3 separate regions of the Homo sapiens genome follow, and regions 2 and 3 are each linked to region 1. Evidence: fine-mapped expression QTL. A gene starts in region 1. Each other region holds a variant in brackets. All regions are shown on one strand. Distances are from middle to middle.

Evidence for each region.
Region 2: its variant is fine-mapped to the expression of UQCC1 in whole blood (INTERVAL, PIP 0.96).
Region 3: its variant is fine-mapped to the expression of UQCC1 in whole blood (TOPMed, PIP 0.99).

What each region holds. Positions count from the first base shown.
Region 1 is chr20:35,408,648-35,416,532 of GRCh38, reverse strand. It overlaps UQCC1 (ubiquinol-cytochrome c reductase complex assembly factor 1), which reads left to right and starts at 4,560. Exons shown (of 10, transcript NM_018244.5): 1 at 4,560-4,593. The coding sequence starts at 4,570. RefSeq lists enhancers at 4,325-4,374, 3,582-4,404, 4,505-4,654, 4,715-4,814, 4,405-5,228.
Region 2 is chr20:35,529,341-35,538,008 of GRCh38, reverse strand. It overlaps C20orf173 (chromosome 20 open reading frame 173), which reads left to right and starts at 8,357. Exons shown (of 6, transcript NM_001145350.2): 1 at 8,357-8,450; 2 at 8,585-8,668. The coding sequence starts at 8,636. The variant TG/G (reference allele first, on the strand shown) is at 4,195.
Region 3 is chr20:35,371,309-35,379,976 of GRCh38, reverse strand. It overlaps UQCC1 (ubiquinol-cytochrome c reductase complex assembly factor 1), which reads left to right. Exons shown (of 10, transcript NM_018244.5): 5 at 5,721-5,793. Among named protein-coding and RNA genes, the nearest start is that of UQCC1, 36 kb to the left of the region's middle. The variant G/A (reference allele first, on the strand shown) is at 4,562.

The sequences.
Region 1 (7,885 bases):
AGAGGATTGCTCAAGCCCAGAAGATTGAGACCAGCCTGGGAAACATAGAGAGACCCCCGTACCCCATCTCTACTAAAAATAAAAAAATTAGCTAGGCATGGTGGCACATGCCTACGGACCCAGCTATTCAAGAGGCTGAGGAGGGAGGATCACTTAAGCCCAGGACTTTGAGGCTACAGTGAGCCTTGATTGCACCACTGCACTCCAGCCTGGGTGACAGAGCAAGACCCTGTCTCAAATAAAAATCAATTCCAAATAGATTTAAGCCTTAAACACAAGACCTCAAACTAAAATTACTAGAAGAAGAAAATATAGAGGAAAAGCTGCATGACCTGGGTCTGGGCAATAATTTTTTTAATATGACCCCAAAAGTACAGGCAAAAAGAGTGAAAATAGAGAAATAGTGTTATATGAAACTAAGAAACTTTTGCACAGCAAAGGAAACAATCAACGGAGTGAAGAGACAACGTATGGAATGGGAGAAAACATTTAAAAACCATATATCTGATGAGGGGTTAATACCCAAATTTTAAAATGGGCAAAAGATCTGAATAGACATTTCTCAAAAGAAGACATACAAATGGCCAACAAGTATATGAAAAAATGCTCAGCATCATTAATCATCAGGGAAATGCAATCTAAAGCCACAATGAGATATTACCTTGCACCTGTTCGAATGGCTACTATAACATTGTTCCTAAGGACGTGGAGAAAGGGAACCCTTGCACACTGTTGGTGGAATGTAAATTAGTACACCCATTATAGAAAACAGTATGGAGGTTCCTCAAACAATTAAAAACAGAACCACCATAGGATACAGCAGTCTCACTATTGGATATATATTCAAAGGAGATGAAATCAGTATGTTGAAGAGGCATCTATACTAACATGTTCATTGCAGTGGTATTCACAACAGCCAAGTATGGAATTAACCTAAGTGTCCATTAGTGATGAACAAATAAAGAAAATGTGGTGGCTGGGCGTGGTTGTTCACGCCTGTAATTCCAGCACTTTGGGAGGCCGAGGTGGGCAGATCATGAGGTCAGGAGACCGAGACCATCCTGACCAACATGGTGAAACCCGTCTCTACTAAAAATACAAAAATTAGCTGGGTGTAGTGGTGCACGCCTGTAATCCCTGCTACTCAGGAGGCTGAGGCAGGAGAATCGCTTGAACCTGGGAGGGGGAGGTTGCAGTGAGCTGAGATTGCATCACTGCACTCTAGCCTGGTGGCAGAGTGAGACTCCGTCTCAAAAAAAAAAAAAAAAAAAAAGAAAAAAGAAAGAAAGAAAGAAAGAAAATGTGGTTTATGACCAGGTACAGTGACTCATGCCTGTAATCCCAGTACTTTGGGAGGCAGAGGTGGGCAGATGACTTGAGGCCAGGAGTTCGAGACCAGCCTGGCCAGCATGGTGAAACCCTGTCTCTACTAAAAATACAAAAATTAGCCGGACATGGTGGCACGTGCCTGTAGTCCCAGCTACTTGGGAGACTGAGGCACAAGAATTGCTTGAACCCAGGAGGTACAGGCTGCAGTGAGCTGGGATTGTGTCACTGCACTCCACCCTGGGCGGCAGAGCAAGACTCTGTCTCAAAAAAAAAAAAAAGTGATTTATATATATAATGGAATGCTATTCAGCCTAAAAGAAGAAGGAAATGCTGGCCAGGTGCGGTGGCTCACACCTGTAATCCCAACACTTTGGGAAGCCAAGGTGGGCAGATCACCTGAGGTCGGGAGCTCAAGACCAGCCTGACCAACATGGAGAAACCCCATCTCTACTAAAAATAAAAATTAGCTGGGTGTGGTGGCACATGCCTGTAGTCCAGGCTACTTGGGAGGCTGAGGCAGGAGAATTGCTTGAACCCGGGAGGGAGAGGTTGCAGTGAGCCAAGATTGTGCCACTGCACTCCAGCCTGGGCAACAAGAGCAAGACTCTGTCTCAAGGAAAAAAAAAAGAAGGAAATGCTCATATCTATGACAACATGGATGAACTGGGAGGATGTTATGTTAAGAGAAATAAATGAGGCACAGAAAGACAAACACTGCTTGATTTCTCTCATATGTGGAATATAAGTTGAACACACAGAAGTAGAGAGTAGAATGGTGGTTACTAGAGGCTGAGGAGATGTTTGTCAAAGGATACAAAATTTCAGTTAAGAGAGATAAGTTCAGGAGGCCACTTTGGGAGGCCAAGGCAGGCGGATCACCTGAGGTCGGGAGTTCGAGACCAGCCTGACCAACATGGAGAAACCCCGTCTCTACTAAAATATAATATTAGCTGGGCGTGGTGGCGCATGCCTGTAATCCCAGCTACTCAGGAGGCTGAGGCAGGAGAATCACTTGAACCCGGGAGGCAGAGGTTGCAGTGAGCCAAGATCACGCCATTGCGCTCCAGCCTGGGCAACAAGAGTGAAACTCCGTCTCAAAAAAAAAAAGAAAAGATCTATTGTATAACATGGTGACTATACCCACTATGAATATGTATTGTATTCTTGAAAATTGCTTAAAGAACATATTTTAAACATTTCCAGCACAAAAATATGAGGTAATGCATATATTAATTAGCTTGACTTAGCCATTTCACAATGTATACATATTTTAAAACATCCTGGCCGGGGGCACGGTGGCTCACTCTTGTAATCCCAGCACTTTCGGAGGCCGATGTGGGTGGATCACCTGAGGTTAGGAGTTTGAGACCGTCCTAGCCGAAATGGCAAAACCCCGTCTCTACTGAAAACACAAAAATTAGCCAGGCGTGGTGGTGCGCATCTGTAATCCCAGCTACTTGGGAGTCTGAGGCAGGAGAATCGCTTGACTTGGGAGGTGGAGGTTGCAGTGAGCCGAGATTGAGCCACTGCACTCCAGCCTGGGCGACAAGAGTGAAACTCTGTCTCAAAAAAAAAAAAAAAAAGAAAAAAGAAAACATCCTGTTGTACACAATATATATTTTTTGTCAATTAATAAAAATCAATAAATTTAATTAAAAAAATAGTCGAGTGAAGTTATTTCCCATGACTAGCTCCTCTTCTTCCTTTAGATTTCATCTTACATGTCACTTTCTTGGAGAGGCCTTACCAACCTAACCAAAGTAGCTCCCCAGTTTTAATTTTTTTCACTGGGTTCCTATGCCTCCCCCACCAGTCTAAGAACTCCATGAAGCCAGTATGTCTTGTGTTCAGCACATAGGGAAGACTCAATAGGTCTTTGTTGACTGAATGAAATGAAAGAAGTCCTTCAACATCCTGCCCCTCTGCTCCCTCAACCCCCAAAGCACCAGTACTTTGTCTTCTCTTCTCTTGGGATGTAATGGAAGAGGAGTCTTCTACCAAGGCCGTTCTCTGCCACTTTCCTCAAGAAGCTCCTTGCCTCTTTGATTGATTCTCCTGTATACTCTTTTTTTTTTTTTTTTTTTGAGACGGAGTCTCGCTTTGTCACCCAGGCTGGAGTTCAGTGCCCCAGTCTCAGCTCACTGCAACCTCTGCCTCCCGGGTTCAAGCGATTCCCTGCCTCAGCCTCCCAAGTAGCTGGGATTACAGGCACACGCCACCATGCCCGGCTAATTTTTTTCGTATTTTCAGTAGAGACGGGGTTTCACCATATTGGTCAGGCTGGTCTTGAACTCCTGACCTCAGGCAATCCACCTGCCTCGGCCTCCCAAAGTGTTGGGATTACAGGCATGAGCCACCGGGCACGGCCCTGTATACTCTTCACTAATCTTTTCCTATCAATATGCAAAGATGTTTCCCTTAAACAACCAACCAACCACAAATCCCAAAAGTTTCTTCCTCTACCAGGCTTCAGATCGGCACATGACCGCCTTCTTGCCTTGACTTTCAGGAGTCTGGTATCCCCCGTATTCTTTTATCTTAGCCTCCTTCTCTGGCTTTTTTTTTTTTTTTTTTTTTTTTTTTTTTGAGACAGAGTCCAGTCCTGCTCTGTCGCCCAGGCTGGAGTGCAGTGGCGCGATCTCGGCTCACTGCAACCTCTGCCTTCAGAGTAGCTGGGATTACAGGCACACACCAACATGCCCGGCTACTTTCTTTGTATTTTTAGTTAGGGACGGGGTTTTGCCATGTTGGCCAGGCTAGTCTCGAACTCCTGATCTCAGGTGATCCGCCCGCCTCGGCCTCCCAAAGTGCTGGGATTACAGGCGTGAGCCACCGCGCCCGGTCTTCTGGCTCTTTCTAAAGATTGGGATTTCCTAAAGTCCTGTTCTTTTCAACCTCCATTGAAAAGTGTTGGGGTGGAGTTTGGGAAGGAGGGGCTGAGGAGTGAGGCTGGGTTAGGTGGGGAATAAAGAGAGGGATATGAGAAGCCCCGAGGTCTGGGGTCAAGGAGACAGGCGTGGGGGAAGGATTTGAACCACTGTTACGTGTAGTGGGGGAGACAGCAGGGAGAGCGTGCCCGGGCACGACAGCCTGGTGCACAGCCGAGAAAACAACAGCGCGTGCGCGTAGCGACCTCTTTGCGCCTGCGCCCCCCTTGCCAGTCTTTCGCCGGCAAAAGGAGGACGTAGAAAAGGGGACACCGGAAACTCACTCTTCACCCGGAAATGGTTATTGAGGAACATGGCGTTGCTGGTGCGAGTCCTTGTGAGTGAAGGAGTAATTTTCTACGGTAGCTCTCTGGGTCCCGGGTTGGAGTTCGACAAGGCAGGGCGGGAGGAATTGGAAGGAATCGCAGGAGGGAAGCCTGTGTTATAGCTAGGCTGAGTGGCCGCTTTTCCGTGGGGAAACTGAGGCAGCTTCCGACCTCTTCCTACCCCGTTTTGACCTTAGCTCCCCCATCTTTCGAGAAGGGGAAGACTGACATCTGGCCTTTATTTGATGGGGTTTACTTTTCCTTCCCTCCCCCATGTACCTGCTTCCCCTCAGGGAGAGGAGCATGTAGGACACTGATTGGAGTTTCAGGAGGCCTGGGTTCTAGTCCCTGACTGTCACTGATGCATAGTGACTTTAAGCAAGTCACTTTTGGGCCTCATTGACCCTATGTGAAAAACGAGGACATTTATCTCCTGCAGTCCCTTTAGATTCTGAGATTCTCAGGGTTTCTTTCATAGGTAATAAGTCAGTTCTTAACTGTACAGTTAAGTGGAATATAGATTATTAGATTGAAAGCTGCGTGAGAATTGGAGTCATGTCTGTCTCCGTCGTTTTCACTTTGCCTAGCATGGTGTCTGGCACATCATAGGTGTTAAATGATTACTTGTTGAATAAATGAATGAAGTAAGGAAAGACTACCAGACTCTTTAGCACCCGTGTGTGAAACTACTGCACCTCTTGAGATTTAGTCCTGACCCTTCTAGCATACTCTTTTCTCTAGCAATTAAAGGAGAAAAGAAAGTGGCAGCAGAAAAAACGTTAGGATACAGAGCTTAGTTTTTAATCATGGAGGGATGGGAGAGTGTATAGTTTTAGCGAGTCTTCAAAAACTGGGTCAAAGACACTGTTTTTCATAGTAGACATGGTCTATTCCTGTGTCTAGGTAACTTCTGAATTGTTATTTTACATTTGTGTTTTTGATCTTTTTATATATGTCTTACAAGGACGACAGTTTTACTTCTTGTATTCCTTGCCAGCCTAGCAGAGTGAGGTACCCTCGACTGCTGTTCAGTAAATATTTATTTGTAGAGTAGCCCCTGTAACTGCCAGAAAGATTCACCTGGTGAAGTGATTGTTTGATTTCAGGCCAGAAATTGATTCAGAAATGAGGACTGCTGGGGAAATGGCAATTAGAATGTTCTGAATTTAGTGGTTTTTTTTTTTTTTTTTTTTTTAATCCTTCCCCTGCCACCCTTTAGGGTTTTGTTTTTTTTTTTTTTTTTTTTGAGGCAGAGTCTTGCTCTGTCGCCGAAGCTGGAGTGCAGTGGTGCCATCTCGGGCTCACTGCAACTTCTGCTCCCGGGTTCAAGCAATTCTCCTGTGCCAGCCTCCCGAGTAGCTGGGATGACAGGCATGCACCACACCACACCTGACTAATTTTTGTATTTTTTTTTTTTTTGAGATGGAGTCTCGCTCTGTCACCCAGGGTGGAGTTCAGCGGTGTGATCTCGGCTCACTGCAACCTCTGCCTCCTGGGTTCAAGCAGTTCTCCTGCTTCAGCCTCCCAAGTAGCTGGGATTACAGGCGCCTGCCACCACACCTGGCTAACTTTTGTATTTTTAGTAGAGATGGAGTTTCACCATGTTGGCCAGACTGGTCTCGAACTCCTGACCTCATGATCCGCCTCCTGCGGCCTCCCAAAGTGCTGGGATAACAGGCATGAGCCACCGAGCCTGGCCTGACAACTATCATTTTATAGGGCACTTACTACGTGCTAAGCACTTTAAAATACTTACCTAATCCTTATAACATCCCTTTGGAAAGGAGGGCGTGTTATTTCCTCTATTTTACAGATAAGAAAACTGAACCACAGAGAGGTATTCCTGGCCAGGTGCCGTGGCTCACACCTGTAATCCCAGCACATTGGGAGGCTGAGGTAGGTGGATCACTTGAGGCCAGGAGTTCAAGACCAGCCTGGCCAACGTGGTGAAACCCTGTCTCTACTAAAAATACAAAAATTAGCCAGGCCTGGTGGTGGGCGCCTGTAATCCCAGCTACTCGTGAGGCTGAGACACGAGAATTGCTTCAACCCAGGAGGCGGAGGTTGCAGTGAGCTGAGATTGTGCCACTGCAGTCCAGCCTGGGTGAAAGAGTGAAACTCTGTCTGAAAAAAAAAAAGAAGTATTCCTGAAACATTCTTGTTAGTCTTGCTTTATTTTTTCCTCTTTTTGTCTTGTCAGCCAATATTTTCCCTTCTCCAGTGATGGTTTTGGGAAGGAGGAGGAAACTAAAACACTGCTATTGTTGAATGACTACAGCAGAGAGCCTGGACATTTGATCAGTGGAACTGGACATGCTTATGGTTTTTATGAGTTGTCCTGGGCATTGCTGATCATTTCTGCTTTTCTTTGGAAATAGTAAAAATTGCAGAAAGCCACCCTGTACTTTAGAAAATTAAAAAAAAGTTGTGGTAAAATACATGTAACAAAATTTACCTTTTAAACTTTTTTTTTTTTTTCTGAGACGGAGTTTTGCTCTTGTTGCGCAAGCTGGAGTGCAATGGCGTGATCTTGGCTCACTGCAACCTCTGCCTCCCGGGTTCAAGCGATTCTCCTGCCTCAGCCTCCTGAGTAGCTGGGATTACAGGCACGTGCCACTACGTTCAGCTAATTTTTTGTATTTTTAGTAGAAATGGGGTTTCACCATTTTAGCCAGGCTGATCTTGAATTCCTGACCTCAGGTGATCTGCCCGCCTTGGCCTCCCAAAGTGCTGGGATTACAGGCATGAGCCACTGTGCTTGGCCACCTTTGAAACTTTTTAAGTGTACAGTTCTGTGGTATTGAGTGCATTTACATTGTTGTGCCATCTTTACCACCCTTATCCACAGAATTATTTTCATTTTATAAAACTGAAACTCTGAACCTATTAATAACTCTCTATAGTCTTTTCTCCCCAGCCCCTGGCAGCCACCATTCTACTTTCTGTCTCCGTGAGTTTAACTACTTTGTGTACCTCATATAAGTGGAATCATACAGTATTTGACCTTTTGTGACTGGCTTATTTCATTTAGCGTAATGTCCTCAAGATTCATCCATGTTGTAGCATGTGTCAGAATTTTCTCTTTTTTTTTTTTTGGAGATAGGGTCTCGCTCTGTCATGCGTGCTGAAGTGTAGTGGCTCAATCATAGCTCACTGCAGCCTTGACCTCCTGGGCTCAAGTGATCCTCCCACTTCAGCCTCCTGAGTAGCTGGGACCACAGGCATGTGCCACCACGCCTGGCTACTTTTTTTTTTCTTTTTTGTAGAGATGGGGTCTCCTTATGTTGCCCAGGCTGGCCTTGA
Region 2 (8,668 bases), 120 kb before region 1:
AAAATACTTTAAAAAAAAGGCCAGGGGTGGTGGCTCACGCCTGTAATCCCAACACTAGGGGAGGCCGAGGAGGCCAGATTACCTGAGGTCAAGAGTTCAAGACCAGCCTGGCCAACATGGTGAAACCCCATCTCTACTAAAAATACAAAAAATTAGCCGGGCGTGGTGGCGCATGCCTGTAATCCTAGCTACTTGGGAGGCTAAGACAGGAGAATCGCTTGAACCCAGGAGGTGGAGGTTGCAGTGAGCCAAGATCATGCCATTGCACTCCAGCCTGGAGGACAAGAGTGAAACTTTGTCTGAAAATTAAATAAAATAAATAAAATAAAATAAAAATTATTAAAAAATAAAAATTAAAAATTGCACTAAATTCAGATTTTAAAATGTAATATCCATGTATGCAAGCAACACTCAAATATACACACACACACACTGTGTCCCTGCCCTGTGTTGAGTCCTGGGAAGAGAGAGTTGAATTAGAACAGTTCTTGCCTTCAAGAATGTTACAGTCCTGGCTGGGCACGGTAGCTCACGCCTGTAATCCCAGCACTTTGGGAGGCCGAGGAGGGTGGATCACCAGGTCAGAAGTTTGAGACCAGCCAGGCCAGAAGACCAGCCTGGCCAATATGGTGAAACCCCGTCTCTACTAAAAATACAAAAATTAGCTGGGCATGGTGGTGGGCGCCTGTAATCCCAGCTACTCAGGAGGCTGAGGCAGGAGAATTGCTCGAACCCGGGAGGCAGAGGTTGCAGTGAGCCGAAGATTGTGCCATTGCACTCCAGCCTGGGCAACAGAGCGAGACTCCGAATCAAAAAAAAAAAAAGAAAGAAAGAAAGTTACAGTCCTAATTATGGATATTAATATATCCCTTAATAAAATAATAAAAATAAAAATAATAGCTAATAATAATAATTTTTTAAAATAGCTAGCATTGGCCGGGTGCAGTGGCTCACACCTGTAATTCCAGCACTTTGGGTGTCAGAAGTGGGAGGATCACAAGGTCAGGAGTTTGAGACCAGCCTGACCAGCATAGTGAAACCTTGTCTATACTAAAAATACAAAAAATTAGCCAGGCATGGTGGCGTGCACTTGTAGTCCCAGCTACTTGGGAGGCTGAGGCAGGAGAATGGCTTGAACCCGGCAGGCAGAGGTTGCAGTGAGCCAAGATCGCATCACTGCACTCCAGCCTGGGTGACAGAGGGAGACTCCATCTCAAAAAAAAAAAATACCTAGCATTTGTCAAGCCACTACTATGTGGCAAATATGGTGGTAAACTCTTTTTTTTTTTTTGAGACAGATTCTCATTCTGTTACCCAGGCTGGAGTGCAGTTGTGCAATCTCAGTTCACTGCAACCTCCACCTCCCAGTTCAAGCGATTCTCATGCCTCAGCCTCCCGAGTAGTGGGATTACAGGCGTCCACCACCACACCTGGCTAATTTTTTATATTTTTGGTAGAAATGGGGTTTCACCATGTTGGCCAGGTTGGTCTCGAACTCTGACCTCAAATGATCTGCCCGCTTTGGCCTCCCAAAGTGCTGGGATTACAGCCATGAGCCACCGCACCTGCCCTGTTGTAAACTCTTTTATCTTCACCTATATCATGTCAGTTCATCTTCACAACAACCTTAGGCCGGGCACAGTGGTACACACCTATAGTTCCAGCTACTTGGGAGACTGAGGCAGGAGAGGGAGGATCACTTAAGCCCAGGAGTTTGAGACCAGCCTGGGCAATATAGCAAGACCCTGTCTCTAAAAACAAAACAACAACAAAAACAACAACCTTAGATGCTAACTGCTATTATTATCCCTGATTAAAAGCTTTGAGTGGCTAATAAGCTAATATCTAAACTCCAGTCTGTTTTATTTCAAAGTGCATAGCTCAAATCATTCAATGACTTAAGATCAAAACTTTGATAAGAGGTGGCACAGGGGGACCATGGGAGTCTGTAAGGGAAGGTGACTAACATGCTGGGTTAGGGAATGCTTCCATAAAAAGGAAGAGGAGGGACCCTGGAGTTGGGTGACTGTGGCAGCCTGACCGCAGCTCACCAAGGAAGGAGCAAAGACAAGGAGAAACTAATACTAACTGAACATGGACAATATGCCCATTGCTGTAATCCATTTCACCCTCAAAACAACGTGGGAGTTAGGTGCTTTTTTTTTTTTTTTGAGACAGAGTTTCGCTCTGTCACTCAAGCTAGAGTGCAGTGGCGTGATCTTGGCTCACTGCAACGTCTGCCTCCCAGGTTCAAGCAATTCTCATGCCTCAGCCTCCTGAGTAGCTGGGATTACAGGTGCACACCACCATGCCCAGCTAATTTTTGTATTTTTTGTAGAGATGGGGTTTTGCCACGTTGGCCAGGCTGGTTTCTAACTCCTGGCCTCAGGCAATCCACCTGCCTCAGCCTCCAAAAGTGCTGGTATTACAGGCATGAGCCAGCGCATGCGCAGCCTAGGTGCTACTTCAAGTCTCATTTTATAGATGAGGAAGCCAAGAGGTGAACTGACTTTCCCAAGATGGCAGGCGCACGCCTGTAATCCCAGCTACTCAGGAGGCTGAGGCAGGAGAATCGCTTGAACCTGGGAGGTGGAGGTTGCAGTGAGCCGAGATTGCACCACTGCACATCAGCCTCGGCGACAGAGCGAGACTCCATAGAAAAAAAAAAAAAAAGTGAAAGTACATTTCAAAGAATTTCTAGAAATGAAAAATAGTCATTTAAGTTTAAAAACCAGTAGAAGGGCTAAACAACCAATTAGGCACAGTTAAAGAGAGAAATATTGGCCGGGTGCAGTGGCTCACACCTGTAATCCCAGCACTTTGGGAAGCCAAGGCAGGTGGATCACCTGAAGTCAGGAGTTTGAGACCAGCCTGGCCAACATGGTGAAACCCCATCTCTACTAAAAATACAAAAATTAGCCAGGCATGGTGATGAACGTCTGTAATACCAGCTACTTGGTAGGCTAAGGCAGGAGAACTGCTTGAACCTGGAAGGTGGTTGCAGTGAGCTGAGATGGGGCCACTGTACTCCAGCCTGGGCAACAGAGTGAGAACTCCGTCTCAAAAAAAAAAAAAAAAGAGAGAGAGAGAGAGAAATATTGAACAGAAAGATGGAGCTGAAAAACATTACCCATAATGTAATATAGAGAAATAAAATCATAGATGTAAAAGAGAGATTCAGATACTTGAAGGATAGAAAGAAAAACAATCCAACATTTGCCTAATAGGAGTTTCCTAATAGGAGGAAATACTGAGAATAAGGGAGAGGCAATATTTGAAAGAAATGGCTGAGAATTACCCAGAATTGATGAAAGGCAAGAGTTCTCATATTTAGGAAGCCTGAATGTACTGTAACAGGATAAATGAACATATATTCATACCTAAACACCAGAACAGCAAAAGCAAAGAAATGCTAAGATCTGGAAAAAATGGGTAGTGGGGATATGAATGTCATGTAATTGATTCTAGTCTTATTCAATGTATTATTCACTAGAGTATGCTTGGAATGATGAATGTGTTCTGAGACTAGATAGTGATGATGGTTGCACATTAAAAAAATGGATAAAATGCAATGAGAACACATGGACACAGGGAGGGGAACAACACACACTGGGGCCTGCCTGGTGGGCAGGCCAGTGGGAGGGAGCGCATCAGGATAGCTAATGCAGGCAGGGCTTAATGCCTACGTGATGGGTTGATAGGTGCAGCAAACCACCATGGCACACATTTACCTACGTAACAAACCTGCACATGTATCTCGGAACTTTCTTTTTTTTTTTTTTTTTCTGAGATGGAGTCTGTCACCAGGCTGGAGTGCAGTGCCTCGATTTCAGCTCACTGCAACTTCCGCCTCCTGGGTTCAAGCGATTCTCCTGCCTCAGCCTCCTGAGTAGCTGGGATTACAGGCACGCGCCACTATGCCCAACTAATTTTTGTATTTTTAGTAGAGATGGGGTTTCACCATGTTGGCCAGGATGGTCTCAATCCCTTGACCTTGTGATCCCCCTCCCCTGTCTTGGCCTCCCAAAGTGTTGTGATTACAGGCGTGAGCCACTGCTCCTGGCCTGTATCCTGGAACTTAAAATAAAATTTTATATATATTATATAAAATAAAAATATATATATATACACACACACACACACACACACACACACACACACATATATATATATATATTTTTTTTTTTTTTTTTT[TG/G]AGACAGAGTCTCATTCCATTGCCTAGGCTGGAGTACAGTGGTGCGATCTCAGGTCACTGCAACCTCTGCCTCCTGGGTTCAAGCAATTCTCCTGCCTCAGCCTCCCAAGTAGCTGGGATTACAGGCACACACCGCCACGCCTGGCTAATTTTTGTATTTTAGTAGAGACAGGGTTTCACCATATTGCCCAAGCTGGTCTTGAACTCCTGAGCTCAGGCAATCCGCCTGCCTCAGCCTCCCAAAGTGCTAGGATTACAGGCATAAGCCACCACACCCGGCCAAAATATTTTTAAAATGGTTAAAATGGTAAATTTTATGAGTTTACAAAAATTTTAAAAATTATACCAGTTGGCCAGGCACAGTGGCTCATACCTGTAATCCCAGCACTTTGGGAGGCCAAGGCAGGCAGATGACAAGGTCAAGAGATTGAGATCATCCTGGTCAACATGGTGAAACCCTGTCTCTACTAAAAATACAAAAATTAGCTGCGCGTGCTGGCTCGGACCTGTAGTCCCAGCTACTCGGGAGGCTGAGGCAGGAGCATCTCTTGAACCCGGGAAGCAGAGGTTGCAGTGAGCTGAGATCATGCCACTGCACTCTAGCCTGGCAAAAGAGCAAGGCTCCATCTCAAAAAAGAAAAAAAAATTGTAGCAGTTGATGTAAATGAAATAGCAATAAAACTTGCTATACATCTTTTCCTAAATGATTTTTTTTCTTTGAGACAAGGTCTCACTCTGTCACTCAGGCTGGAGTGCAGTGGTGCAATCACATATCACCGAAGCCTTGACTTCCTGGGCTCAAGTATTCCCTACCTCAGTCTCCTCCTGAGTAGCTGGGACCACAATGGCCAATTTTTATATTTTTTATAGAGATAGGGTCTCCCTACGTTGCCCAGGCTGGTAGATAATTTTTAAAACCTTTTCATTTTGAAAAAACCATAGGCACACAAGAAATTGTAAAAATAGTACAGAAAATTCCCATGTACCCATCATCCATTTTCCCATTTTATTCTTTATTTTTGCTTTATTTTTTTTTTTTAGAGACAGAGTCTTGCTCTGTCACGCAGGCTGGAGTGCAGTGCTGCTATCATAACTCACTGCAGCCTTTAACTCCTGGACTCAAGTGATCCTCCCACCTGAACCTCCCAAGTAGCTAGGAATAAAGGCGCACACCACCAAGCCCAGCTAATTTTGTGTGTGTGTGTGTGTGTGTGTGTGTGTGTGTGTGTGTGTGTGTGTAGAGTCTTGCTGTGTTGCCCAGGCTGGTCTCAAACTCCTGGCTTCAAGCTTCAAACCCCACCTTGGCCTCCCAAAGTGCTGGGATTACAGGCACGAGCCACTGTGCCTGGCCTTCATTTTCTCTTAATGGTAGTGTCTTACCATATAATACATATAGTAATTTTTCTTTTTCTTTTTTTGAGACAGAGTTTCACTCTTTTTGCCCAGCTAAAATCACATTCAGTGGTGCGATCTCGGCTCACCGCAACCTCCGCCTCCCGGGTTCAAGCAATTTTCCTGCCTCAGCCTCCCGAGTAGCTGGAATTACAGGCATGCGCCACCATGCTTGGCTAATTTTGTATTTTTAATAGAGACAGGGTTTCTCCATGTTGGTCAGGCTGGTCTCGAACTCCTGACCTCAGGTGATCTGCCCACCTTGCCTCCCAAAATGCTGGGATTACAGGCGTGGGCCACCGCGCCCAGCCCATATGGTACTTTTTCAAAACCTGGAACTTGACGTTGGTATGATATAATTAACTAGCCTACACACCTTACTCAGATATTTGGGTGAATTGATTTAAAAGCTATACAATATCCAGTGCAGCTTTCCACTAGTTAAGATGAAGAATTTTACTGTTCTTATCCCATTGAATAAAATGTTTTGATTTTTTTTAAAAACCAAAATGTTCTGTTTTTTTCTTAAACTTTAAAAACAACTCAAACATTTTCATTTTTTTACTATCTTTACAAGACTACAATTGAATTAAGGGGGTGGCAGTGGAGATGAAGAAGATGACTTAGAAATAGAAACGAATTAAAAAATGGATTTGAGGCCAGACTCAGTGGCTTATGCCTGTAATCTCAGCACTTTGAAAGGCCGAGGAGGGTGGATCACTTGAGCTGAGTTCGAGACAGGGCTGGCACAGTAAACCCCATCTCTACTTAAAAAAAAAAATCAGCAAGGCTCGGTGGCTCACGCCTGTAATTCCAGCACTTTGGGAGGCCGAGGTGGGCGGATTGCTTGAGACCAGGAGATGGAGACCAGCCTAGCCAACACAGTGAAACCCCGTTTCTACCAAAAAAATACAAAAATGAGCCAGGTGTGGTGTTGTGCGCCTGTAGTCCCAGCTACCTGGGAGGCTAAGGCATGAGAATCACTTGAACCTGGGAGGTAGAGGTTGCAGTGAGCCAAGATTGTGCCACTGCACTCCAGCCTGGGCGACAGAGTGAGACTCTGTTTCAAAAATAAATTAAATAAATAAATAAGCCTAGCGTGGTGGCACACTTCTGTAGTCCCAGCATCTTGGCAAGCTGAGGTGAAAGGATTGCTTGAACCTTGGAGGCAGAGGCTACAGTGGGCTAAGATTGTGCCACTGCACTCCTGCCTGGGTGACAGAGTGAGACTTTGTCCTAAAAAAAAAAAAAAAAAAAGAATTTGGGTATCATAGGAGTAGGAGGAATTAATAACACATGAGTTCTGGTTTCAATAACTGGGTACGTGGTGGAACCATTTGTTGAGATAGAGAAGTTTTGAAGCTGGGTGCAGTGGCTCACGCCTGTAATCCCAGTACTTTGGGAGGCCGAGGTGGGCAGATTACCTGAGGTCAGGAGTTTGAGATCAGCCTGGCCAACATGGTGGAATCCCGTTTGTACCAAAAATACAAAAAATTAGCCGGGCTTGGTGGCACGCACCTGTAATCCCAGCTATTCGGGAGGCAGAGGCAGGAGAATTGCTTGAACCCCGGAGGAGGCAGAAGTTGCAGTGAGCTGAGATTGCGCCACTGCACTCCAGCCTGGGTGACAGAGCAAGACTCTGTCTCAAACAAAACAAAAGAGACAGAGAAGTTTTGGGAAGGGTTGGTTTACAGGGAAAATCCTGGGTTCAGTCTCAGGCTTATTCAGGTGAGATGTCTCTGAGCCATCTAAGTGGCAATTCAGTAGGCTGTTGGATATGGGGTCTAGAGACTACAAGAGAGGATTGAGTTGATGTCACACAACTCCAGAGAGGGCATCACACACAAGTATATTTAAAGTTCCAGGCTGGGGCGGGGTGCAGTGGCTCATGCCTGTAATCCCAACACTTTGGGAGGCCAAGGCGGGCGGATCACCTGAGGTCAGAAGTTCGAGATCAGTCTGACCAACATGGGGAAACCCCGTCTCTACTAAAAATACAAAAAAATTAGCCAGGCGTGGTGGCGGGCACCTGTAATCCCAGCTACTTGGGAAACCGAGGCAAGAGAATCACTTAAACCCGGGAGGTAGAGGGTGCAGTGAGCCGAGATCGTGCCTCTGCACTCCAGCTGGGGCGACAAGAGTGAAACTCCGTCTCAAAATAATAATAATAATAATAATAATAATAATAATAATAATAATAATTTAAAAATAAAGTTCCCGGCTGGGCATGGTGGTTCACGCCTGTAATTCCAGCACTTTGGGAGGCTGAGGTGGGCGGATCACTTGAGGTCAGGAGTTTGAGACCAGCCTGGCCAATATGGCGAAACCCTGTCTCCACTAAAAATATAAAAATTAGCCAGGCGTGGTGGCGCATGCCTGTAGTCCCAGCTACTTGGGAGGCTGAGGCATGAGAATCGCTTGAACCAGGCAGGCGGAAGTTGCAGTGAGCCAAGATCATGCCACTGCACTCCAGCCTGGACAACAGAGCAAAAACTCCATCTCAAAAAAAAAAAAAAAAGTTCCCTCTCAACCCCTGTTTATTTATCCCATAAATATTTATTAAATGATTCTAAGTCTTAGAGCTGCAGAGGTGAAGAAGAGAGACTAGGTCAGCCCCTGTCCTCATGAATCTTACATCCAGTGGAGGTCATTTCGGTGTCAGAGAAAGGGTAGGGTGGTGGCTTTTTTCAGGCAGGCTAAAGGAGGGAGGTCACAATGTGTACTTTGTGATGAGATCTATGATATAACTGGGATGACAGCAAGGCCCCCACTGAGGTATTCCTTCCCCTCTCAGGACTAGCCACATGCTGTCTCTCTGCCCTGGCCTCTTCCACCCCATGCCCAGTCAGAGACCGTTTTGAGGGTGAGCAAATGGATAGTGAGGCAGGAGAGGAGGGGTTGGAAGGAGGTGGAAGGTGGTGGGATGGGGAGTTGTGGAGGCCGACAGGACAGAGGGAAGCTGGTGCTGTCTGTGGCCTCAGCCCCTCATCCTTACAGGTAGAGAAGCCAGTCTACGGCCCACCACGGGAGCCACCGCCTGGGCCAGACATGAAGCGCTGGCAGATTTTTGTCCTGTGGGTC
Region 3 (8,668 bases), 37 kb after region 1:
ATCAGGAAAATTCCTTTGCTCTTTTAGCCTAAGTTAGCCTCTGATTTTTCTTGGTTCCCTTGTGACATCAACTAAATCCCTAATGTTTGCATTTTAAAACTCTTGTGATGTGATGGTGTGTACTTTCTATAACCTTCATTTTATTTTATTTAATTTTAATTTTATTTTTTTGAGACAGAGTCTCACTCTGTCACCCAGGCTGGAGTACAGTAGCGTGATCTCAGCCTACTGTAACCTCCGCCTCCCAGGTTCAAGCAATTTTCCTGCCTCAGCCTCCTAAGTAGCTGGGACTACAGGCGCATGCCACCACACCTGGCTGACTTTTGTATTTTTAGTAGAGATGGGGTTTCACCATGTTGGGCCAGCCTGGTCTCCAACTCCTGACCTCAAGTGATTCCGCCTGCCTTGGCCTCCCAAAGTGCTGGGATTATAGGATTGAGCCACTGCGCCCAGCCTATAACCTTCATTTTAAAATTTGTTACATCACAATATCAACGTATGACATTCTAGTGTAATTGAGATGTGAAAATGTATGTGTAACTTTTCATTTTGAAAAACAGAACCGTTTTCAGCAATGTTGACTCAAATCAATGCACTTGTATTGGATTGCACTGGCAAAATTATTTGTTTTGTGTTTTCACATGTATTTGATTAGGGAGTAAAATACCTGCATGTCTGTCCACATCAGCAGTATCAGCTATCTTTTCTCTATCTTTTTCTTTAGGTTTCATGTGTTATTCCCATGTTTGATAATCATGTTTAGGATCTTAAATGTAGCTTTCCCTTACCTATTTGAGTATCTTGGAATCATCATTTTAAAAAATTACCTTTATATGCAGTATCAGGTGAGATAAGCACAATATTTACCCAACTCAGCCACATGCCATAGAATAGGTTTCCATATTAGCATTAAGCCAAAAAGTTATTCCTATTCTGAAGGACACTGACAAACTGGAATGTATTCAGAGGTAGGCAGTGAGCCTTATGAACATTTCAGAAACTGTTAAGAACGGTTGAAGGAAATAGGGATGCTTAGCCTGGAAAAGAGAAGACAGGATGATTCTTCTCAGGTATTTGAGGGGCAAATGTGAAAAAAAGAAGGTATTCCAGTGGGCAGAATAATGTTCAATGAATGTTATATGAAGCAGATTTTAAGTTTAGCAAAATAAGAATCTAACAAGAATTGTCCTCAGGTGGGACAGGTAGCCTTACAAGGTCATTGGTCTTGTTTGAACAGAGGCCCAGATGGTTGACTGTGAATCAAGAATGCTGTAGAAGGATTTCCAGTAGACAATAGAAGGTTCAAATTACTTAAAACACCCTTCTAACTCTTTTTTATCTTTTTTTGAGTTGGAGTCTCGCTCTGTCGCCCAGGCTGGAGTGCAGTGGCGCGATCTCGGCTCACTGCAACCTCTGCCTCCCAAGTTCAAGCAATTCTCCTGCCTCAGCCTCCCGAGTAGCTGGGATTACAGGTGCCTGCCACCACGCCCAGCTAATTTTTGTATTTTTAGTAGAGATGAGGTTTCATCATACTGGCCACCCTGGTCTCTTGGCCAGGCTGGTCTCAGAACTCCTGACCTCATGATCCGCCCACCTCGGCCTCTCAAAGTGCTGGGATTACAGGCATGAGCCACCTTGCCAGGCCCTTTCAAACTCTTACATAGCTGTTAATGCAAGCATTTTACTAGATTTGTTTTTCATCCTGTAGGATGTTAAAAAATGCATTAGTTCGTGGGAGAGCAGATTTTCATTTCCTAAAGCTGTTCAAGGTGCCTCTCTTTTACTCAAGTAAAAGATGACTGATGAAGTCTTCTAAAATTAAAATGAAATAAATATGAAGTCATCCAAGGACCAGAACAACTTGTATTGACTGGTTGAAAATTCAGTCCCCCTACGTCCTTAACTCAGATCAGTGCATGATTCTTGATGAGGTTCTTTCCTCAAGTTATTATTTCCAGTCTCTGTGTGATAGTCTTTAGAGACTTGTTTTAGAGATTTGTCCAGGAAAATGGCTCACCCAAGTATAAAGGCTTGGCCTTGCAGCAGGAAAAGTGAAGAACTATAAAATGCTCCTGATTGCCATAGCATGAGCACTGAAAACATACTCTGGCCAATCTGGTGAAGTCTTCATTGTTTGTGATGAATGCTTTTTCACAAACGTGTTGTTGGGGAAGCTTCCTTCTCAAGGAAAGACTTGGGCCTTGGGCCTTGAAGGCAAGTCTCCAGGCAAGGTGATTAATTATGAACCCAGGACTTTATATATAGGAATCTGAAGGAGATTACAAGATTTAAAAAAATCAAGAAATAGATGATTAGAAATTTTAGTTAAAGTTACATACTTGTCTGTAGCTGAACTGGGCCGTAAGCTCCATGAGAGTAGAGATTTTTGTCTGTTTTGCCCACTGCTCTATTCTCATCATCCAGATCAGTGCCAGGCACTGAGTTATGTACTCAGTGAATTATTGGATGAAGTGAGGAGCTAGGGCAGATGTCCTGAACTCCCTGTCTTAAGGATAGGAGTAGGCCTGTCAAGGCCAAATTATTAGGATCATGATATTATTAGATTATCATTAGTTTGGTAATGGCACAGACCAGTGCTTCCCAAGATGTGTTCTGTGGTCAGATACTTCCTAGAACTGCAAGTGTTAACAAAATTAAACAGGCTTTTTTTGGTCTGTTGATATGGTGAAACTGATTGATTTGTCAGTGTTGAATTATCTTTGCATTCCTGGGATAAATTTCACTTGATTATGATATACTATCCTTTTAAAAATATTGATGGATTTAATTTTAAAATATTTTCTTAAGGAATTTTGCATCAATGATCTATGTTCATGAAGGCTATTGTTCTGTAGTTTTGTTTTCTCCTAATGACTTTGATTTTGATATCAGGATAAGGTTGGCCTTATTGAATGAGCTGGGAAATATCCTTTCTTCTTGTTTTCTGGCAGAGTTTGTGTAGATTTCGTAACATTTCCTTTTTTCCTTTTCTTTTTCTTTTTTTTTTTGTTTTGTTTTGTTTTGTTTTGAGATGGAGTCTCACTCTGTCGCCAGGCTGGAGTGCAGTGGCGCACTCAGCTCACTGCAACCTCTGCCTCCTGGGTTCAAGCGATTCTTCTGCCTCAGCCTGGGACTACAGGCGCGTACCACCACACCCAGCTAATTTTTGTATATTTAGTAGAGATGGAGTTTCACCATGTTGGCCAGGATGGTCTCAATCTCTTGACCTCGTGATCCGCCCACCTCAGTCTCTCAAAGTGCTGGGATTACAGGTGTGAGCCACCGCGCCTGGCTGATTTCATAACATTTCTTTAGATGTTCAGTACAGTTCTCTAGTGATGCTATCTGGGTCTGCAGTTTGCATTGTGGGGAGGTTTTTAAAGACAAATCCAATTTCTTTAATAGATACAAGACTGTTCATGTTATTTATTTTAGTGAGCTTTAATAGTTTGTATCTTTCAAGGAATTTGTCCATTTCATCTAAGTAATCACATTCATTGGAGTAAAGTTGTTCATAGGATTCCCTTATTATCCTTTTAATGTCTTTAGGATATGCAGTGATGTCTGCTCTCTGATTCCTGATACTGAAAATTTGTATCTTATGTGTTTTGGGCTTTTCTTTTTCCTTGATCAGTTTTATAGGTTATCAATTTTATTGATTTTTTTTTTGAGGCGGAGTCTGGCTCTGTCGCCCAGGCTGGAGTGCAGTGGCACAATCTCGGCTCACTGCATCCTCTCCCTCCCAGGTTCAAGTGATTCTCCTGTCTCAGCCTCCCAAGTAACTGGGATTACAGGCGCCTGCCACCATGCCTGGCTAATTTTTGTATTTTTAGTAGAGTCGGGGTTTCACCATGTTGGCCAGGCTGGTCTCGAAATCCTGACCTCAGTTGATCTTCCTGCCTTGGCCTCTCAAAGTGCTGGGATTAGTGAGCCGGGTGGGTGAGCCACCACAACCCAACCTAATTTTATTGATATTTTTAAAGAAACGGCTTTGGCTTCAATTTTCCTTTTTTTTTTTTTTTTTTTTTTAGGCAAGGTCCAGCTCTGTCACCCAGGCTGGAGTGCAGTGGCGTGATCTCAGCTTGCTGCAACCTCCGCCTTCCAGGCTCAGCCTCCTACCTCAGCCTCCTGAGTAGCTGGTACTATAGGCACACACCACCATGGCCAGCTAATTTTTGTATTTTTGGTAGAGATGGAAACGTTTTGCCATGTTTCCCAGGTTGGTCTCCAACTCCTGGGCTCAGCCGATCTGCCTGTCTCAGCCTCCTAAAGTGCTGGGATTACAGGCGTGAGCCACCATGCCTGGCCTGGCTTGAATTTTCTGTATTTTATCTTCCTGTTTCAGTTTTGTTGATTTCTGATCTTTACTATATCATTCTTTCTGCTTGCTTTTAGGTTTAATTTGCTTTGCTTTTCTAGCATTTCACCATGGGTTTTGTTTAAACGTGGGCTTCTAATGCTGATTTACTCCCCAGATAGGGATATCTGATTTTTATTTGTCTATTTCTATATGTCCTATTTTCCCCTGTATTAACTTTAGACTGGAAGCTCTTAAAAACAT[G/A]ACAGATCTCAAGTTAGCAAATAAAATATCTTAATTACAATCAGAGACGTAATCATTCTTTAATTTGCTATGGGTATTTCTACCCATCAGAGACACTTGCTTTAACTCTAGAGAATTTAGAAAAACATGAACATTATATAGTTTTGGGTATAGTATGTTCTTGGTGACTTTAAACCTTAGTATCATAGCTCCACTAAATTCTAGATTGGTTTTTCTTCAGTTGCTATGTCATTCTCAGCCTGTACACATTTGTTTTTGGTCTATGCATATTTGAGTTTATAACTTTCCCTGTTGTTATAAGAAAAAATAAGCTTCTAGAAGCCTTGTTGAAGTGCTCATTTATTTAGTTATATCCTTAATGAAATGTTTTGAAAGTCCTTAAAATACCTGTTCCTAGAGTGCTGAGTTGGTCTTCAGACCCATAAGTCAACTCTTAAATAATTTATTTTTAGATTTATTTTTATTAAGGCATAATTTATATACAGTGTAATATAAAAATCTTAAGTATACAGCTCAGTGAAAAAATTAAAACCACCACTCATATCAAAAGCCTAAGAGAATTCCTAGTGCTTTGGGAATAGTAAAAGTTTGATTCTTATATTGTATTTTACAGTCATTAGAAACCCTTATTTACAGACACAGTGTTAATCAGCAAACTATAAAATTAAAGATCTGGAAAAAAGATACCGCTTACTCCATCCCCCGAGATTTATAGAATAGATAGTAGTGCCTCTGAGGAAAGATTAAAGGCTTGAGGGTTTTTGTATATTTCTTTGATTTTGGCCAGAAGAATGTGTACTTTTTTACTATAAAGGATTTCAGATTCTAAAGAGTTAATGTGGATAATGCTGAACAGTGATTTAGAGGCACAAATGTGGTGAAGTAGGTTGGAATTAAATGAGAGATTTCATTTAAATATTGGAAAAGCCTTTCTGAGGTTTTCATGCTAAAGTCCTAAAATATGAAAATTGTGTGAAGTCTGTATGAATGGCTAAGCTCTAAGAAAACAAAAAAAATTTATATTGGTTTAAATTACCTAGAGAGTGGTTTGGACCCTTCCTTCTAGTTGAAGAAATATAAGATTTTGTGACCCATGTCTAATGGAAGTAGAACATCCACTTGGTCATGTCTTGAGTTTGGTTTTATTCTCTTTGTCTAGAAGATTAAGATTGCGGCCCTGCGCATGTATACTAGCTGTGTGGAGAAAACTGACTTCGAGGAATTCTTTCTAAGTAAGTTATTGTTTGATAGTACTGAAAAGGAGAACAAATCTACATTTCATTTTTATGGTTGTGTTTTAATAGGATAGGTTTTTTTAGTCCCTAGTGAAACAGTTTTTCCTGCACAAAGCATATAATCCAAACTGTCTATTTGTCTCTTTAAAAAACTTCTTGTATATATTTCTTTAGAGACAAGGGTCTTGCTGTGTTGCCCGGGCTGGCCTAAAACTCCTGGGCTCAAGCAGTCCTACCACCTCAGCCTCCTGAATAGTAGCTGGGACTAAAAGCACATGGCACTGTACCCAGCTGCTTTTCTTTTTTAATAGAGTAAACAGAGAGCAAAAGGATCCTATAAATAAAACATTTTGCTTATTTTGAAAAAACAAACAAACTGTACTTTGACATTATCTCCCTTGTCCACACATGCATCTTTTTACATAAGAGTATTCATATCATAGTAAACATATTCTGTTTTACAGTCTGGATGGTTTTTTTTTTTTTTTTTTTTGAGATGGAGTCTTGCTCTATTAGCCCAGGCCGGAGTGCAGTGGTACGATCTTGGCTCAGTGTAACCTCCACCTCTCCACCTCCCAGGTTCAAGCAATTTTCCTGCCTCGGCCTCCCGAATAGCTGGGATTACAGGCATGTGCCACCATACCCAGCTAATTTTTGTATTTTTAGTTGACATGGGGTTTCACCATGTTGGCTAGGCTGGTCTCAAACTCCTGACCTCACGTGATCCGCCCTCCTTGGCCTCCCAAAATGCTGGGATTACAGGCGTGAGCCACTGTGCCTGGCCCATTCTGGATGTTTTACTTAGCATTTTGACATGGACGTTTGGCCAGCTATTCCTGTTTTTAATTTTTAATTGTTTTAATTAATCCTGGATTAATTATGATTTTTCTCATGTTAAAAGACTATTGGGTCAAAAGGCATATATAATTTTATTATGTATATCTCATTGATAAATTGCTTTCCAAAAGGGTTTTGCTGGTTTAGACTGTCAGAAGCAGTTGATTGTTATCACAGTATTAATTTTGATGCTGTAAACAGTTATATTATTAACAAAGTTAATTAAAGCAGGTACTTGTAATTGGGAGAGATTAAATCATTTCCAGTTCCACAGGTTTTGGAAGGAAATGTATGCTGTGTACTTCTGTGGTAATAGTCACATCCTCAAAGCAGCATACACCTAACTGTATACATTTGAGATTTTTCTCTAGCAGCAAATATTTGTATATAATTGTGTTCACAACAATGAAGAAAGCTGGGTGCAGTTTTGGTTATTTAATAACTATTTTTTTGTTGCATCGTGTTTTTTGAGACTTGCTTTGAGTCTTGCTCTATTGCCCAGATTGGAGTGGAGTGGTGCCATCTTGGCTCACTGCTACCTCCACCTCCCAGTTTCAAGTGATTCTTGTTCCTCAGCCTCCTGAGTAGCTGGGACTACAGGTGCACGCCACCATGCCCAGCTAAGTTTTGTATTTTTTTTAGTAGAGACAGGGTTTGGCTATGTTGGCCAGGCTGGTCTCAAACTCTTGGCCTCACATGATCCACCTGCCTTAGTCTCCCAACCCAAAGTTCCGGATTACAGGCGTGAGCCATGGGACCTGGCCTATTTTGGTTTTTAAAAATCAAATAAATACAAATCATTTTATTTTACTGTCTCAGCAGATTGACACCAAAAACTGAAATACCATACTGAATTATAATTCCAATTTAGTGTTCACCTTTCCTTTCTTCTTTATTCATAACCTGGAAAGAATATTTTCCTGCTTCTTTGTTAGTCTAGGATAAGTTAGTCCAAAAGGAAAAAATATTTTTTCTCTATCTGATGAAGCTATTAATATTAGAAACTGCTTTTTTTCTTTTTCTTTTTTTTTTTTTGAGACAGAATCTCAATCTGTCACCCAGGCTGGACTGCAGTGGTGTGATCTCGGCTCACTGCAACCTCTGCCTCCCGGATTCAAGCAATTCTGCCTCAGCCTCCCAAGTAGCTGGGATTACAGGCATGTGCTACCATGCCCGGCTAATTTTTTTGTACTTTTAGTAGAGACGAGGTTTCACCATATTGGCCAGGCTGGTCTCGAACTCCTGACCTTGTGATCCACCCACCTCGACCTCCCAAAGTGCTGGGATTACAGGCGTGAGCCACCACACCCGGCCTCTTTTTCTTTTTTTTAAGAGATGATCTTGCTCTGTCACCTAGGCTGGAATCAGTGGCTCTAGCCCTTTTACTGCATCCTTTTACTCCTGGGCTCAAGCAACCCTCCCACCTCAGCCTCCTGAGTCGCTGGGACTACAAAGACATGCCATTATGCCTGGGTCATTTTTTTATTTTTATTTTTTGTAGAGACAGGGTCTCACTATGTTGCCCAGGCTGGTCTTGAACTCCTGGTCTTAGGCCTTAAGTGATCCTGCCTCAGCTTCCTGAAGTGCAGGGATTACAGGCATAAGCCACCATGCCCAGCCTGTTTTTTTTTTTTTTTTTTTTTTCTTTAAGTGCCTTCTTGAATCCATGTGTGAAGTATTTTTCATCAGGTCTTTTTAAAACCTCATCCTCAGGCTGGGCGCGGTGGCTCACGCCTGTAATCCCAGCACTTTGGGAGTCTGAAGTGGGTGAATCACTTGAGGTCAGGAGTTTGAGACCAGCCAGGCCAACATGGTGAAACCCCCACCCTCTACTAAAAATTAGCTGGGCATGGTGGTGGGTGCCTCTAATCCCAGCTACTCGGGAGGCCAAGGCAGGAGAATCACTTGAACCCGGGAGGCAGAGGTTGCAGTGAGTCGAGATCACACCACTGCACTCCAGCCTGGGCGACAGAGCAAGACTCCATCTCAAAAAAAAAAACAAAAAAAACCCTCATCCTCAGATGTCTATTTAATG